Linked DNA regions of Homo sapiens. The protein of the gene in region 1 interacts with the protein of each later gene in a biochemical or structural test. Each region holds a gene or a part of one and is shown in the gene's direction. Other genes may lie near its edges.

Evidence for each region.
Region 2: the proteins of TCERG1 (region 1) and FMNL1 form a complex in vitro, tested with the Homo sapiens proteins (one study listed by BioGRID).

What each region holds. Positions count from the first base shown.
Region 1 is NC_000005.10:146,478,318-146,485,339, forward strand, and holds part of TCERG1 (transcription elongation regulator 1), read left to right. Parts: intron 1-175; coding exon 176-336; intron 337-1,537; coding exon 1,538-1,594; intron 1,595-1,710; coding exon 1,711-1,777; exon of another isoform or gene 1,778-2,832; coding exon 2,833-2,883; exon of another isoform or gene 2,884-3,129; coding exon of another isoform or gene 3,130-3,253; exon of another isoform or gene 3,254-4,274; coding exon 4,275-4,410; exon of another isoform or gene 4,411-5,222; coding exon 5,223-5,312; intron 5,313-6,820; exon of another isoform or gene 6,821-6,933; intron 6,934-7,022. UniProt on the Homo sapiens protein: Transcription factor that binds RNA polymerase II and inhibits the elongation of transcripts from target promoters. Regulates transcription elongation in a TATA box-dependent manner.
Region 2 is NC_000017.11:45,217,552-45,224,895, forward strand, and holds the start of FMNL1 (formin-like protein 1), read left to right. Parts: upstream 1-4,333; 5' UTR 4,334-4,573; coding exon 4,574-4,702; intron 4,703-7,344. UniProt on the Homo sapiens protein: May play a role in the control of cell motility and survival of macrophages. Plays a role in the regulation of cell morphology and cytoskeletal organization. Required in the cortical actin filament dynamics and cell shape.

The sequences.
Region 1 (7,022 bases):
AGTCATTCAGTTATCTTGTAAAAACCATGTTTGGTTCTCTGTAAATAACTATTGGTAATAAGAACATGTCGTTCTTCAGTACCCTCATCTCCCTACTTGTAACAGGCTGAAAGAAGTCCTAGCTGTAAAATATGTTCTGTAACATAAGAGAATGATATTTTGCATCAATTCTTAGGTGTGTCGTTTGGACTGGTGATGAGCGGGTCTTCTTTTATAATCCCACCACTCGTCTTTCTATGTGGGACCGACCTGATGATCTGATTGGCAGGGCAGATGTTGACAAAATTATTCAGGAGCCCCCTCATAAAAAAGGAATGGAGGAATTGAAGAAACTAAGTAAGTTTTAAATTAGGAATTTATCCACTGATTTTAACATTCTTTTCATATTTTGATAGAAAATGTGGAAGGCATTTAGAAACCCTTTATTTTTCAAAGAATATAAGAAGCATTCGAAAAAAATAGACTGCTATCCTAGTTTGAATGAAATAATAGAGATTAAAAATATGGAGAGAATTTGGATAAGATTGTGCTTTGTAAAATATGTGTGTCTTTAATTTATTGTCCTACTCAAGATTTTCAGTTAGTCCAAGATATGGTTGGTAGTGTTGCTGCTTGCTTAGTGCTTATCAATACTACTAAAATGCTCCTCGGTGGGCCTTTTAGCACCTTTTGTGACTAGTAATATATTTCTTGAAATAATACATTACAAATTTTTTAAAAATACAAAATCTCAATCTTTTGAATTAGATGGTAAGCTCCTTATATTCCTGAGACTAGACACCTAAACCTTACTAAGAGATTATCTTTTAATCTATCTCATATTCAGAGGGCATACTAATATATTGAGTACAGATATTTGTACGTAATTTTTGTTGTGTATTTCTTATTGGTAATTTGCCCTTGTGTTGATATGATTGTGTTTTTATAGAACTGTGGCCCGCAAGTGGTATAGAAGCAAGATAAATGAATTATTTAATGCTTCTAATGAAATAAATCCTAGTGTGTATCATTTATAGTCATTGAGACATTTTCATGCATTATATATATGCTGAATTATAAGTAATTTCTGAGTCAGTGCCGCTTTGCCTATCTAGTGCTGAAGGTACTAGGCTCACCTTCAGCAATACTTGTTTTATAGGTATGATAATAATACTTTATAACTATGGTATTGAATGATGTTGAAACAATATGTGATTTTCTTTTGTTTTTCGTGAATTTGTTTTTAAATATTTGATTCATTCATTTGATAAATACATTAACGTGCATTGTTAAAAGGTACTGTAAATCCTGAATCAAGAAAGCTTTATTTTATATATTTGTAAATTTAAGGTTTGGGCAAGAAACATTTCAAAATGAATTAAATTTAATGTAAAGGGAGGATAAATAGAGGAAGTGTAGAATTATGCTTTGTTTAATGTTTTATAAAGGGATGAATATTAAGAGGTGAATATATTATGTAAACAGTAATTTTTAAAAAGAAAAGTTTGTGAAATATATGCAAATGACTTTGTAACAATATTTGAAATGTTTTTGCCAGGGCACCCAACTCCGACAATGCTGTCGATCCAAAAGTGGCAATTCTCTATGAGTGCAAGTGAGTGAACTAACCATAAATTGCAGCTTCTTTTTAATACTATTAAAGCAAGTGTTCTGGTAGTGATTAGCAGAAGGATTCATTCCTAAATATTTTAATTAAATTTTGTCTTATAGTTAAAGAGGAACAAGAATTAATGGAAGAAATTAATGAAGATGAGCCTGTTAAAGCAAAAAAACGGAAGTAAGTAATACATACGATTTGATTGAGGTAGATTATATCTTTTAAAAGTCGATTTGGTAATAATTTGTGATTGGAAGGGACAGGTAATGTGAATGTTGTTAGGAGGCATGATTGCTCTCTTAGGCCTGATAATAAATAGCTTTGTTTTTCATTGTAGAAAATGTGTCCCTTCTTTTGCTAGATTTGTAGAAGATTTGGGTATTCATATATGTATTATGACTCCAAATGATAGTTTTGGAATTAATTCTTTTTGGAAATTTATTAGGTCTCAATTTTATGAAAAGTTAGTTTCCTCCCTCATTTAGACCCCAATGGATACCATTCCAGAGATCTCATAAAAACAGACACAGACTTCTCCCTCTTTATATGGTTATCTTACGACTTACCTAGTCCTTGAGTCTGGTCATTAACTCCTTGGTGAGGAGAGAACCCATAAGCTTAGGAAGTGCTCTGCGAGAAAGAGACTGCTAAGAAGTAGAGGCATTAGCTTGGCCAGTGCTCTAGAGTTGGGTAAAATGTAAATGTTATGGCGGGGGGAAGGATGGGGTAGAGGGTATGCATGTATGGGGAATGGGACCATTATTTAGCAGCAAAAAGGAAAGTTTGAAGACATTAACAGGAACTGGTTAATTGTAGTCCTTATCTGAAAAGGACAGATTGAATGCAGCCAAATTATGGCAAAGAAATCAGTAGGACAACCCCTATAAAGGGTAGTTCTTTTAAAAAAAATTTCTTTATTGGCAACAACATAAAAGATATGAAAGAATCACTCATAATTTATCAGCGTAACATAGCTATTCTCATTTTTGCAATTGACTTTTTAGTTCTTGACCAAATGTAATTTTTATTAGTTGTGATTAACTGATTTTGTGCTTTTTTTTTAAAAAAAAAAAACCTAGAATAAGACATTTGTTTTGTTAATTATTATAAATGACTGTATTCATTCTGTTTATGTACCATAATTTTGGATGTTCCTACGATGTTAAACTTTTAGGTTGTTTTTAATTGTTTGTTCTTATAGACAACTCTGTAAGGTTTTTAACTGCTTTTATCAGGAGAATGTCAAAGAAGTCCTTTATGTGGATTGCCCGAGCTTCTCTATTTAGGTACAAAGCTAAAAGCCTGTTTTTCCTGGCTTAGTTTTTCTTTTATTTCCTTTATTGAGATAGATAGTGATAGTTTGTATTGTGACATTTTCATTTAGTATAGTTCTATAAAGGTTATTTGTTTTTATTAGTTACTTCTTGGATGTCTTTTAACTCTAACTATTTAAATAGTTTTAAAATTATTATTATAAGAGGGTATATTGTTTGGCAAATTGCTTTTACCTGTTTGTTTTGTGCATATCTTAGGTCACAGACTATCTCGCTAAGTTCCTGCAGGTCACGGACTATGTCTTCTATTTCTTTTGATTCATTGCCTAAGTTGCTAAGTACCTCTCACTTGCATTTGTGGGTTAGCCTTAGTTCCATTTAAATCTCTGGGGCTACCTACAGTTTCCTGTATAGCATGCTTTTGAATTTCCACATGTTCTGTTTTCCTAATTCCCTTAAGTTTGTATAGGGAATAAGAGCCAATTTTTAAAATATACTTAGCAGATCATATTTAAGAAGGAAGATCTGCTAAAATACACCCAGATATTATTGAATTACATACTTTTTTGGATTATTTACGTGAATGGGCCTTTTTCATAGTGCATATATTTGAGAGGTGCCGTGATTCCATGTTTACAATTTCACTTGAGTACCACACAGAAACAGGGTTGCCCTTACACCTGAGGTGCATTTTTGGAGGAACAAGAAGTAGTTTAGTCATTGATGAACAGTTCTAATTCCACCTAACTACTCCTGGGCCCATGTTGCTCTCTGGGACCTGTCCTTCAACTTAAATCTCAACTTATCACCCAGAAAGTGAGTAATAAAAAGTCAGGTAGGTAAGGTATATATCTTACATATTCACTTGGCCAAGATTGCAGATATTTTAGTTTTATTTTTAAAATGAATGTTTGAGATTACTAAAACATTATACCACTTAATACCAATTTTTATTAGATTTTACAAAATATTTTATGTGTTTATAATGTAAAACATTTTGGAAAATACTGTTTTTTCTATATTTCAAGAACTAAAAAAATTATATTTTGTGCTGTTTGATTCTGACACATAGAGGTTTACTGCAGTGTTAAACTTTTTTTTTTTTAAGTAAGGTTGCTCCCTTTTTATGTTATTAACCAGTGTCAGGGAGAGACAGCCCATTAAAGGTGTATTTTTTTCCTAATAATGTAGCCATTGTAAATCATTAGAAGCCCATTTTAATTTTGTTATTATGAAAGTTATTTATCCCTTAGAGTTCATTTGAAACCCTCAATATAATTTGTTTTTGCCAAAAATATGCTGCTCAGTAGTGAGTCTTGAAAATTCCTTTGATTTTAAGATTTCTAATAAGATCTGAGAATTAATATTTTGTCAGTTGATGTCTTATATTTTATTTTTTATAGGAGAGACGATAATAAAGACATTGACTCAGAGAAAGAAGCTGCCATGGAAGCTGAAATTAAAGCTGCCCGAGAAAGGGCCATTGTCCCTCTGGAGGCTCGAATGAAGCAGTTCAAGGACATGCTGCTAGAGAGAGGGGTCAGAAAACAATCTTTGGGGGAGATATTTCTGTTTTGTATAAGTAATATAAATATGTCTTGCTAAAAGGTCAAATCTAAGGTTAGTGCTCATGTTATGGGGGGGGATAAGGGGATTTTTAAAATTACTGTACATTTTTTGCAACAGCCTTTTTCTTGGCTAATCTTATCATATTTAACTAAATGCCATTTTACTGTCCTTTTAAGTACAAATAACACTTAACATTTATTGGGTCATTAAATTGTGGTGAGTAATATAAGACGAGTATTAACATTACAGAATGGCGGACTGCTTGGGATAGGTAAGGTATATATGATTATTCTTCCTTTAATATCTTGAGAATGGCTTTTGTTAAAGGAGAACTGATACTTTGTGATATTATTATTTGCAATTTAATTGAGAAGGGATTTCAACTATTTGGTTATATTCACAGATTCATTTGAATAAGTAAAATTGTTCAATTTTAAATCACAACATTGTTCACAAGATTGGAGCAAGCATGAGAAATCAAAATATAAATCTTCAAGGCTTTTTCTGATGTACTGATTTTTAAAATGTCACACAGTAGTAGTTATTTTAATGAGTAATTAAGTGTCTGTTATTTCTATATAATATAGGAATGTTCAGAGCCAATTAGTGTGGAAATTTGCTATTGCTAGCCTCCCACTGCTTGTCATTTATTAGTGATGGAAACTTCAGTATGGTTTTATGTCTCCTTTATAAACAGATATCCTGTAGATTTCAAGCAAAATTATGACCTTTATATTTTTAGAGGAGACTTAATTATGAGGCAATACGTTTTTATTTTAAAGGTGTCTGCTTTTTCAACGTGGGAGAAGGAGTTGCACAAGATAGTTTTTGATCCCCGGTACTTACTTCTCAATCCTAAAGAGAGAAAACAGGTAAAAGGAAAATGGCATTAACTAAGAATGTATATCTCTTGCCAACATAGTTTTTAAATTATAAGGAATAAAGTACCATCCCTTTTTTTTCTGATACAGCATTTCAAAAATATAGTCTTGCATCTTAGAACATATTATGTGTCTGTGTGTGGACATTTCTACTTCAAAATTCTTGGATATTTTTGCCCTTATGAGCATGGCTGTTGTCTTGTAAACATTTTGTCCTTATGCCTCATATACCTAGGTTATGTGTAGTATGGTTTTAAAATTGATTTCAAATGCATTTACTAATTTGCTTGTTTGGGCCAATGATGCAAATTTAGAGTAGAAAAATAGCAAAATACAGATGAGTAAAAAGGATAAAAAAGCTACTGTAATCCCAACTAATAGATATGACTACCGTTGAACACTGGTTTATTATTGAATACTGAACAGCCTTCTTGACCATTATGTGTCAGTATGTACATATATATGTGTGTGTGTGTCCTGTAGATAGTACTTGAACATAGGTTTATGTCTTATACACAACTGCATATACAAAGTTCACATCTAAGTAGCATCTGTTAAAATATCTGTTTCCATCATAAACTCAGAAAAACAGTGGATACTTAAGGGTCCCTGTTGAATTAGTGTTGCTTTTTATTCCCATGATGATTCAGTGACACATATCATTTCGTGATTGCCTCTTCTAAAGCATTGCACACTTCCAACTTACTTAATTTCTGAATTACCTGAACTATCCTGACACTGATCTCCATAAAATGGTGAGTATGTGGAACCACTTGCTATAGTGCTGTTAAGCTGTAAGATTTCATTTGGTAACAGTAGTGCCCATCTTTGATATTTTTAATGTAACAATTGAAATAATTCTTCACATGGTGTGTACCATTATGCATGTAGGTCTAATCATGGACTTGAATGAAGGGAGAAAATTTACAATGTGCCAGATATGTATTTTAGTACTTGGAATAGAAAGACATAACTTCCTTAATGTATTTGCATCTTCATTTTAAGCTTTGTATCTTTTTTAAAAAACAAACTCTGTGTGAGTTTTTTATTCTCATTTCAGTTTATGGCTCTATCAAAATTTATAAATTAGCCTTGATTCCTTACTTTTCCCACTTCCCCTTTACAGTCTTATCAGCAAATCTATAATCTACCTTCAAAAAATTTTCAAAATCTCACCTTTTATTAATCATTTCCCCCATTAACACCCTAATCCAAGCCACCATAAACAACCCTTATCATCTGTGTAGCCTATTGTTGATCTCCTTCATTCCATCTGTTCTTGTTCCTCTTTAGTCAAGTTCTTTTTCCACACAGCAGCCAGGCTAATTTTAAAGTTTAAGTGATACTAAATTAAGTCACTGTTCCCTTGCTTAAAACTGTTTAGTGCTTTCCATTTCATTGAGAATAAAATTGAAGCTCTTTTCATGGTCTCTAATATTCTACATAGACTTACCCCTGTATACCTCTTGATGGTCTTTTTTAATGTCTGTTGATTACAGCCACACTGGCCCTGATATTACTTGAACAAGCCAGTCATTCTGGTGTTTGCTATTCCTTCTGCCTGGACTGTTTTTCCTCCAGGTGTTAGTACAGCCAGCTTCATTTCATTAAGGTACTTGTCCCAGTGCCTTCTAATCAATCTAAGTATTGTCTCTTTGCCTTTTCTAATTTCTTTATGGTGCTCATGGCTCTAATTGTATA
Region 2 (7,344 bases), on another chromosome or scaffold:
CCTTCCTTCCTTCCTTCCTTCCTTCCTTCGAGATGGAGTCTTGCTCTGTTGCCCAGGCTAGAGTGCACTGGCGTGATCTTGGCTCGCGGCACCCTCCGCCTCCCAAGTTCAAGTGATTCTCCTGCCTCAGCCTCCCGAGTACCTGGGATTACAGGCACCCGCCACTACGCCAAGCTAATTTTTATATTTTTAGTAGAGACGGGGTTTCACCATGTTGGCCAGGCTGGTCTCAAACTCCAGACCTCAAATGATCTACCCACTTCAGCCTCCCAGGGTGTTGAGATTACAGGCTTGAGCCATCGCACTTGGCCAGGAGGGACTTTACTTTCTTTGCACATGCTTTTGCACTTTGTTTCTCTTTTGAACTGTGTAATAACCTTTTTCCTTTTTTTTTTTTTTTTTTGAGGCAGGGTCTTGCTCTGTTACCCAGGCTAGAGTGCAGTGATGCGATCTTGGCTCACTGCAGCCTTGACCTCTCAGGCTCAAATAATCCTCCCACCTCAGCCTCCCGAGTAGCTGGGACTACAGGTGCGCACCATCATGCCCAGCTGTTTTTTTTTTTGTTTTTGTTTTTTTTTTTTTTGCATTTTTTGTAGAGATGGGGTCTCACCATGTTGCCCAGGCTGGTCTTGAACTCCTGGGTTTTAGCGATCTTCCCTCCTCAGCCTCCCAAAGTGCTGGGATTACAGGTGCCTGGCCCCTTTTTCTTTTTTTTTTTTTTTTCCCTCAAGACGGAGTCTTGCTCTGTCGCCCAGGCTGGAGTGCAATGGCGTGATCTCGGCTCACTGCAACCTCGGCCTCCTGGGTTCAAGCGATTCTCCTGCCTCGGCCTCCCGAGTAGCTAGGATTACAGGCATGCGCCACCACACCCGGCTAATTTTTTGTATTTTTAGTAGAGATGGGGTTTCACCATGTTGGCCACACTAGTCTCAAATTCCTGACCTCGTGATCTGCCCGCCTTGGTCTCCCAAAGTGCTAGGATTATAGACGTGAGCCACCGCGCCCGGCCCCTTTTTCCTTTTTTTTTTTTTTTTTTTGAGATGGAGTCTCAGTCGGCCAGGCTGGAGTGCAGTGGCGCCATCTCAGCTCACTGCAACCTCCTCTGCCTCCCGGGTTCAAGCGATTCTCCTGCCTCAGCCTCCTGAGTAGCTGGAACTACAGGCGCGTGCCACCACGCCCGGCTAATTTTTTGTATTTTAAGTAGAGACGGGGTTGTGTTAGCCAGGATGGTCTCGATCTCCTGACCTCGTGATCCGCCCGCCTCCGCCTCCCAAAGTGCTGGGATTACAGGCGTGAGCCACCGCGCCCGGCCTCTCGTTTTCCGTTTTTAAGGAAGCTCCTACTGAGTAATGGTGAAGGGGAGAGAAGAGATCCCTGGGAAAACCTTATCAATCACCTGGGTTCTGAATATTCCCAGTGACTGCACTGAAGGTGACAACAGTCCAGAAATGTCGCCGCTGCGGTGAATCCATCCATCGCCCCTCGAAGCCTTGCCCTATCTTGGCTGTCATACCGTCTACGGCCAGCAGGGGGTAGCACAGATCCACCAATGTGTTAGTCCCAAGCTTCAGTCATCCCTTCTAGGATTTCCTCCTCTGTGGGCCAAGATGGGAAAGATACCTCCTGCCAAGCAAATGAAATTTACTACGTAATAATTGATTCCATCTTCTCATTTTTTTTGTAACTCACAGTTCTGATCAGCATGAGAGAGAGGGAGAATGAATATAGGCTTGCAGAAACAATAATTTTCCACAGAAGAGGTGTTACTTAGCCCAGCTTTATTCCACCAGGCCTTGGGTGAAGAGTGGCTGGCAATGGCTTGAGAAGCCCCCAGGATTGAAGATACAGTCTGATAACTACTGCATTCGTGGCTCCCCGCCTGGCTTGGGTTTCCAGCTGCAGGGCACGCTCCTACCCTTCTCTTTTCCTCTCACAGAAGTAGTTCTGGGCAAGAGGAAGCATGAACAGCTGGTCCCATAGGATGACTTGAAGCAGCCACTCTCCTAGAGAGGTTAAAAGTCTGTCCCTCGCTAGGCTGCAAGCAGCCCAAGGACCAAGGCATTTCTCATCTGCCACAGAATCTGCAGGACCAAGCACAGTGATGGGCATGTAGCTGATGCTAAGTAAAGGTTTATTGTTCAATTGAAAGAGACAGCCATTGAGGAATCAGGGAATCCATTCTTTAAAAAAATGTGTTTTTATTCATTAAAAAAAAAAGTCTTCCAGGCTGGACGGGGTGCCTCATGCCTGTAATCCCAGCACTTTGGGAGGCCGAGGCAGGCGGATCACTTGAGGTCAGGAGTTCGAGACCAGCTTGGTCAACATAGCAAAACCCCGTCTCTACTAAAAATACAAAAATGAGCTGGGTGTGGTGGCACGCACCTGTGGTCCCAGCTACTGAGGAGGCTGAGACTGGATAATTGCTTGGACCTGGGAGGTGGAGGTTGCAGTGAGCTGAGACCGAGCCACTGCACTCCAGCCTGGGCAACAGCGAGAGACTCCATCTTAAAAGAAAAAAAAAAGTCTTCCACGACAGTTATCTTATAGAGACAAGAAGAAGAAGAAAGAAGGAGAAGAAGAGGAGGAGGTCCTAGCTAATCTCAAGGGCAAGGACCCAAGGGCAAGGCTCTGGTCTGTCTGAGAAGGAGAATATGGCAGTGTGCAGGGAATGGATCATTTTCCCTGCATGCCCAAGGAGAATTCTGCTTTGACTCACCTTGGAGGTCCTTGGTCAGGCCACGAAACCAGTGATCACATCTCTCACCCATCTGGGGTGCTGGTGACCTTGGCAGAAGAAAGGCTTAAACCAGGTCAGCCTGGGGGAAGGGGCTGGCTCCTTCCAGGGTCTTCCTCCAGATTAGATGTTAACTCTCCGTCTCTTGCTTAAAGTCTTGTCAGTGGCTCTGAATGTGAGGGCAGAAGGAGGAGGATGCTGTCAGGGGAGGGGACACTAATGGCTCCTGACCTGGCCTAGAGATAATTCGGGGCTCCTTCAGCGGGCCCTCCCTCCTCAGTGCCCTGGAAGTGTAGGGAGGGGTCAGTTGGGGATCCCCACAAATTAAATGGGGAATGAGAGGAGCAACTGAAAGTCTCAAATTCAGGCTATAGATGGGACCCCAGCCCCCCATACTCTCCCGTCCTACATGAGATGGGCAGTGGAGGGCCAGGACAGCAACTCCAAGCCAGTGTAGGTTTTGGAGGTAGACAGTGAGGAGGCTTGCTTCTGTCCTTTGTTAGCTGAGTGCCCTTGGACAGCTTACTTACCTACTCTCAGCCTCAGTTTCCCCATCTCTAAAATAAGGCTACCAATACCTACCTTCTCTGGCCATTGTCAGGATGAATGAAAGAGCTCTGAAAGTATTTCTGTAATTAGCAGACATCAGAGATTGTTATTCTCCAAGGTAAGAGGCCCCCCTAGATCCCTGGCGGTGACAGTGTCAAGATTCTTTTTCCCTCCTCTGCGGTGCCCACTCCTTTTCCAGCCTTGTGGCTGGCTCTCATCCTCCTTTCCGCAACCCCCCACTCCTCCTTGGGACCACCTTGGCGGGCCCAGCTTCTCGCAGCCTGCCATATTCCATAGGTGCCCCCATTCTAAAACCTGTAGGGGTGCCCTGCACAGGCGCACGGTTGGTCGAGGTGGGACAGGTGGCGGGGGTCTCCACTGGCCTGCGTCCGCGCCCCCCACCCTGTTTAGGAGTTCCTGTTTGGAGATGGCTCCCCCTCGTCCTCAGCTCGTCTCTGGGCTAAGCAGGGGAGGAGAGAAATAAAAGGTGGGGGGCCTGGAAGGGGGTTCCCACCTTCTCAGTCCGGGACGCGAGACGGGAACGCAGCCCTGGCGCCCCAACGCTGCACCACCGTGGGTCTCCGAGCCGTGCTCGCAGTCGCTGAGATCCTCGGTGCGGAGAAGATGTGCCCCTCCAATCCCCAGGCCGTGATCCCCTTCACCCAGACCCGGCCAATCCCTCGCCCGAGGCGAGCGGGAGGATGCGGTTCTAGGACCCGGAGGCGCCGCCGAGCGCGCCGCCGCCTCGGCCTCGCCTCGGTGGCCTCCCGCTCCGGCAGGTGAAGCGGCGCCGGCCGCCCCCTCTGCGGCAGGTGAAGCGGCTCGGCAGCCCACTCCCCGCCCGCCATGGTTGCGGGGGTCCCCCGGCCAGCGCCCGCCCCCTCCCTCCAGCCCGCCCCCCTGGGGCTGGGTGCCCGGCGGCGGCGGCGGCGAACTGCGGTTTGCGCGCACGGGGAGCGACAGCAGAAGTTCGAAAATCGCCGAGGGGGGAGCCAGCGCCGCAGCTTCCTGCCCCCGGCCCAGCCCTCTGGCCCCGGCGGCCTGCAGCCTGACTTCCTCCCCCAACCCTGCAGCTCGCCGCCCGGTCCCACGGACGGGGCCGCCCCGATGGGACGCCGCGCTCCGGCCCCTGCGCGCCGCTGAGCCGAGCGCCCCCCGCTGCCGAGACCCCCGCCGCCACCGCCAGCCGCTGCCCCCTCGCCCCCGCCCGGGCCGGGAGCCTCGTCCCCGTCCCCCGGAAAGCTGGATTTCCGAGGCTGGAGGCGCCTGGCCGGCTGGGTGGGGACCACCATGGGCAACGCGGCCGGCAGCGCCGAGCAGCCCGCGGGCCCCGCCGCGCCGCCCCCCAAGCAGCCCGCGCCTCCCAAGCAGCCGATGCCCGCGGCCGGAGAGCTGGAGGAGAGGTTCAACCGCGCCCTGGTGAGTGCGACCCGGAGGCGGGTCGGGCGCGGGCGGGGGGCGGCAGGGGCGCGGCAGGGGCTGGGCGCGCGTCCCCGCCCCCGGGGACTCAGGTGCCGCTTGGAGATCCCCGGTCCGGCAGCTGCCCCCTCCAGGAGGTGGGAGCGACAGTGGCCTTTTTTTCAGAGTGACTTAGCACTCTCCCCCCAAAACTTTCTTCAGTTATCGCCCGGTCTCCCTCCCTAAGACGCCTCCACCCCAGCTGGGTCTTAAGGTCTAAACAAGTATGTCCTGTGAAGAAGTTGGGAGCGGGGCACGCACAGGGGTCCCGGGTCGCCCCCTTCCCCACTGCACGCAGGCCCAGCCACCGGGCGCGGGTCTGGGGCATCTGCCTTTCTGTGTCTGGAGTCAAAGATGAAAGGGTTACAACCTCCCGGGAGCGGGAGACCTGCTGGAGGTGTTGGGTCCTGATTTGTTGGGCGCCTGGGCTGCGGGGAATGGGGTTGTCGGATCATGGCCAGGAGGTATCTGTGTTTCTACCCCGCCATATGTCAGAGCCAGGGTGCCTGTGGGTCTTTATCTTGGGGCATCCTTTCCAAGCCACTGAAGGGAGTAAGATGAGGGAGGGTGGGGTCAGGACGGGTGGGTCGCCCAGGCTAGGGGTGGAGCAAAATCTGGAACCACCCCCCTCTGTGCCTACCTGGGGAATTGGAGCGGGGTCGCTGGGGAATAGGTCTCTGGGAGGGAACCAGCAGCTCAGGCCGAGCCTGGAAACAGTCAACATGTTCAGTGGGGTGGGGGCTCCAGAGCAGACTCAGGGGTCTCCAAGACCCTGCATAAGGCAGAAGTAGGGAGAGGAAGAGCTGCTCACTCTCACTCTCCCCACCCCCGACGCCCTGGCCCTGGCTCCCTCCTCTAACTAATTGCCTGGTGGCCTGCCTGCTGTCAGCCTTCCCTTGCTGGACGCTGGGTGACAGGCAAAATGAGGCTGTGCCTTCTCCCAGATGCATTTCCCAGTCCCTGCAGGTCTGAGGGTGGGGGCTCAACGGAGACACAGGCCGCAGAGGGTTCTGGCTCAGTTGGTGGCCCTCCATCTCCTTGACATCATTTCCCCTCGCCTGGCTGGTCATTAGGCCATACGTGCTAGATCCTCAGCATGGCTCCAGAGGGTCACCTCCTAACAGTTCCTGAAAATGTTGGCTTCTGTCCTCTCCCAAGAGAAGGCTGGGGGGAGTTTGGAGGAGCTATGGGGTGGCGAGGGATCCATCCTTGTGAAGACACCTTGCTTGATTAGAGGAGGGCAGGGACACTGAGGGACGCCTCACACCAGGCTGGCCCCTGACTTCTCCATCTCTCCACCTGCCCTGCTCCCCGCTCCCCAAGCATAGGACTTCACAAAGCTGAGCTGAGCTGAGCAGATGGGGGAGGGGGGAGAATGAGGAGACACAGTCTCTGGGGGCCATCTGGAGAGCCTGCATTGGTGGTGGGTCCTTGGACCCCTGCCAACCTGGTTGGAGGGACATGGGTCTGTCTTTCCGCCAAGTGTGTGTCTATGGTCGCGGGTGTGGGCTCTTGGGGTGAGGTCCTGACCCCAATCTTCTGTTTAGCACGCTGATGGGGAGGAGCCCTGTGAATAATTCAGACCAGGGGAAAATCCACAAGTCAAATGGTGAGGTTCTGATGTGTGTGTAGGACTTGTTTGCCCTGCTTGGATTTGTGGCTGTGATTGGCTGAGTCTGACACTAAATGCCACTGGGAGTCCCTGAGTACCAGGATGTGGAGGGGGGACACCCACAGGTGGGTCAGAGAGGGTGTGCTGGTGGAGAAAGTGGAGGTGCCTAGCAGAAATTTAGGGTAGCAGCACCCACCAGGGCTTACCCCCTACCAGGTGCCCAGGAACCCCAGTGTGTTTATACCTTCTTCCCGGGGTGGCTCAGCCTGTCTTATATCCTGTTGTGGGCAGGTTAAACCCAATCTAAGGACACTTGGCTAAGACCCTGGTTCCTCTCATTCCCCACCAGCAGGGGCATGAGGCTTGCCCCAGGGTGACAACCTTGACCTCTGCCTGAGGCTGCCCAGGGCTAAAGAGTTGGTTCAACCCTCAGGTCTGGCAGTGTGTATCGCAGAGTTGGTCGCTATGTGAACCCCCACCCGAACCACCATGGCCAGAGCTGAGTCCTGTCCTCGGTCAGTGTCTAAGAGGAGAAGAACCTTAGATTGCTGAGGGGAGGGGCCCACCGCCATCAGTGGTCCCCAGTCTCAATGGGAGAAGCACAGTCCTGCCCTCAGGGATGTAGTCCAGCGGCCCCAGGGAACCTCTTCCTTCCCCTTTTGTCCCTGGTGGGGCATAGGATCCTGATACCCCAAACTCTCCTTCCTCTCCTGGCTGTAGGACCTCTCTTGTGGGTGAGGGGTGTCCCCACTTACAGCCAGACAGGAGGTGCAGGGAGCCCTTCTCCCATGCAAGGGTGGGTGGTGGGGGGCTACCTTTCCAAGAAAGCTGTGAAAGAAAGGGGTGCCCCCTGCTTAAAATGGGGGTGGAGAGAAAGAGCAGGTTGAGCCAGGGTTTCCGGCTGCTGCCTTAGCAACAGCAGAGGAGCGATGGCTGCCCAGCCCCACGGGCCTGCTGTGATGGTGGGAACACCAGCCAGCGGGGCGCCAAG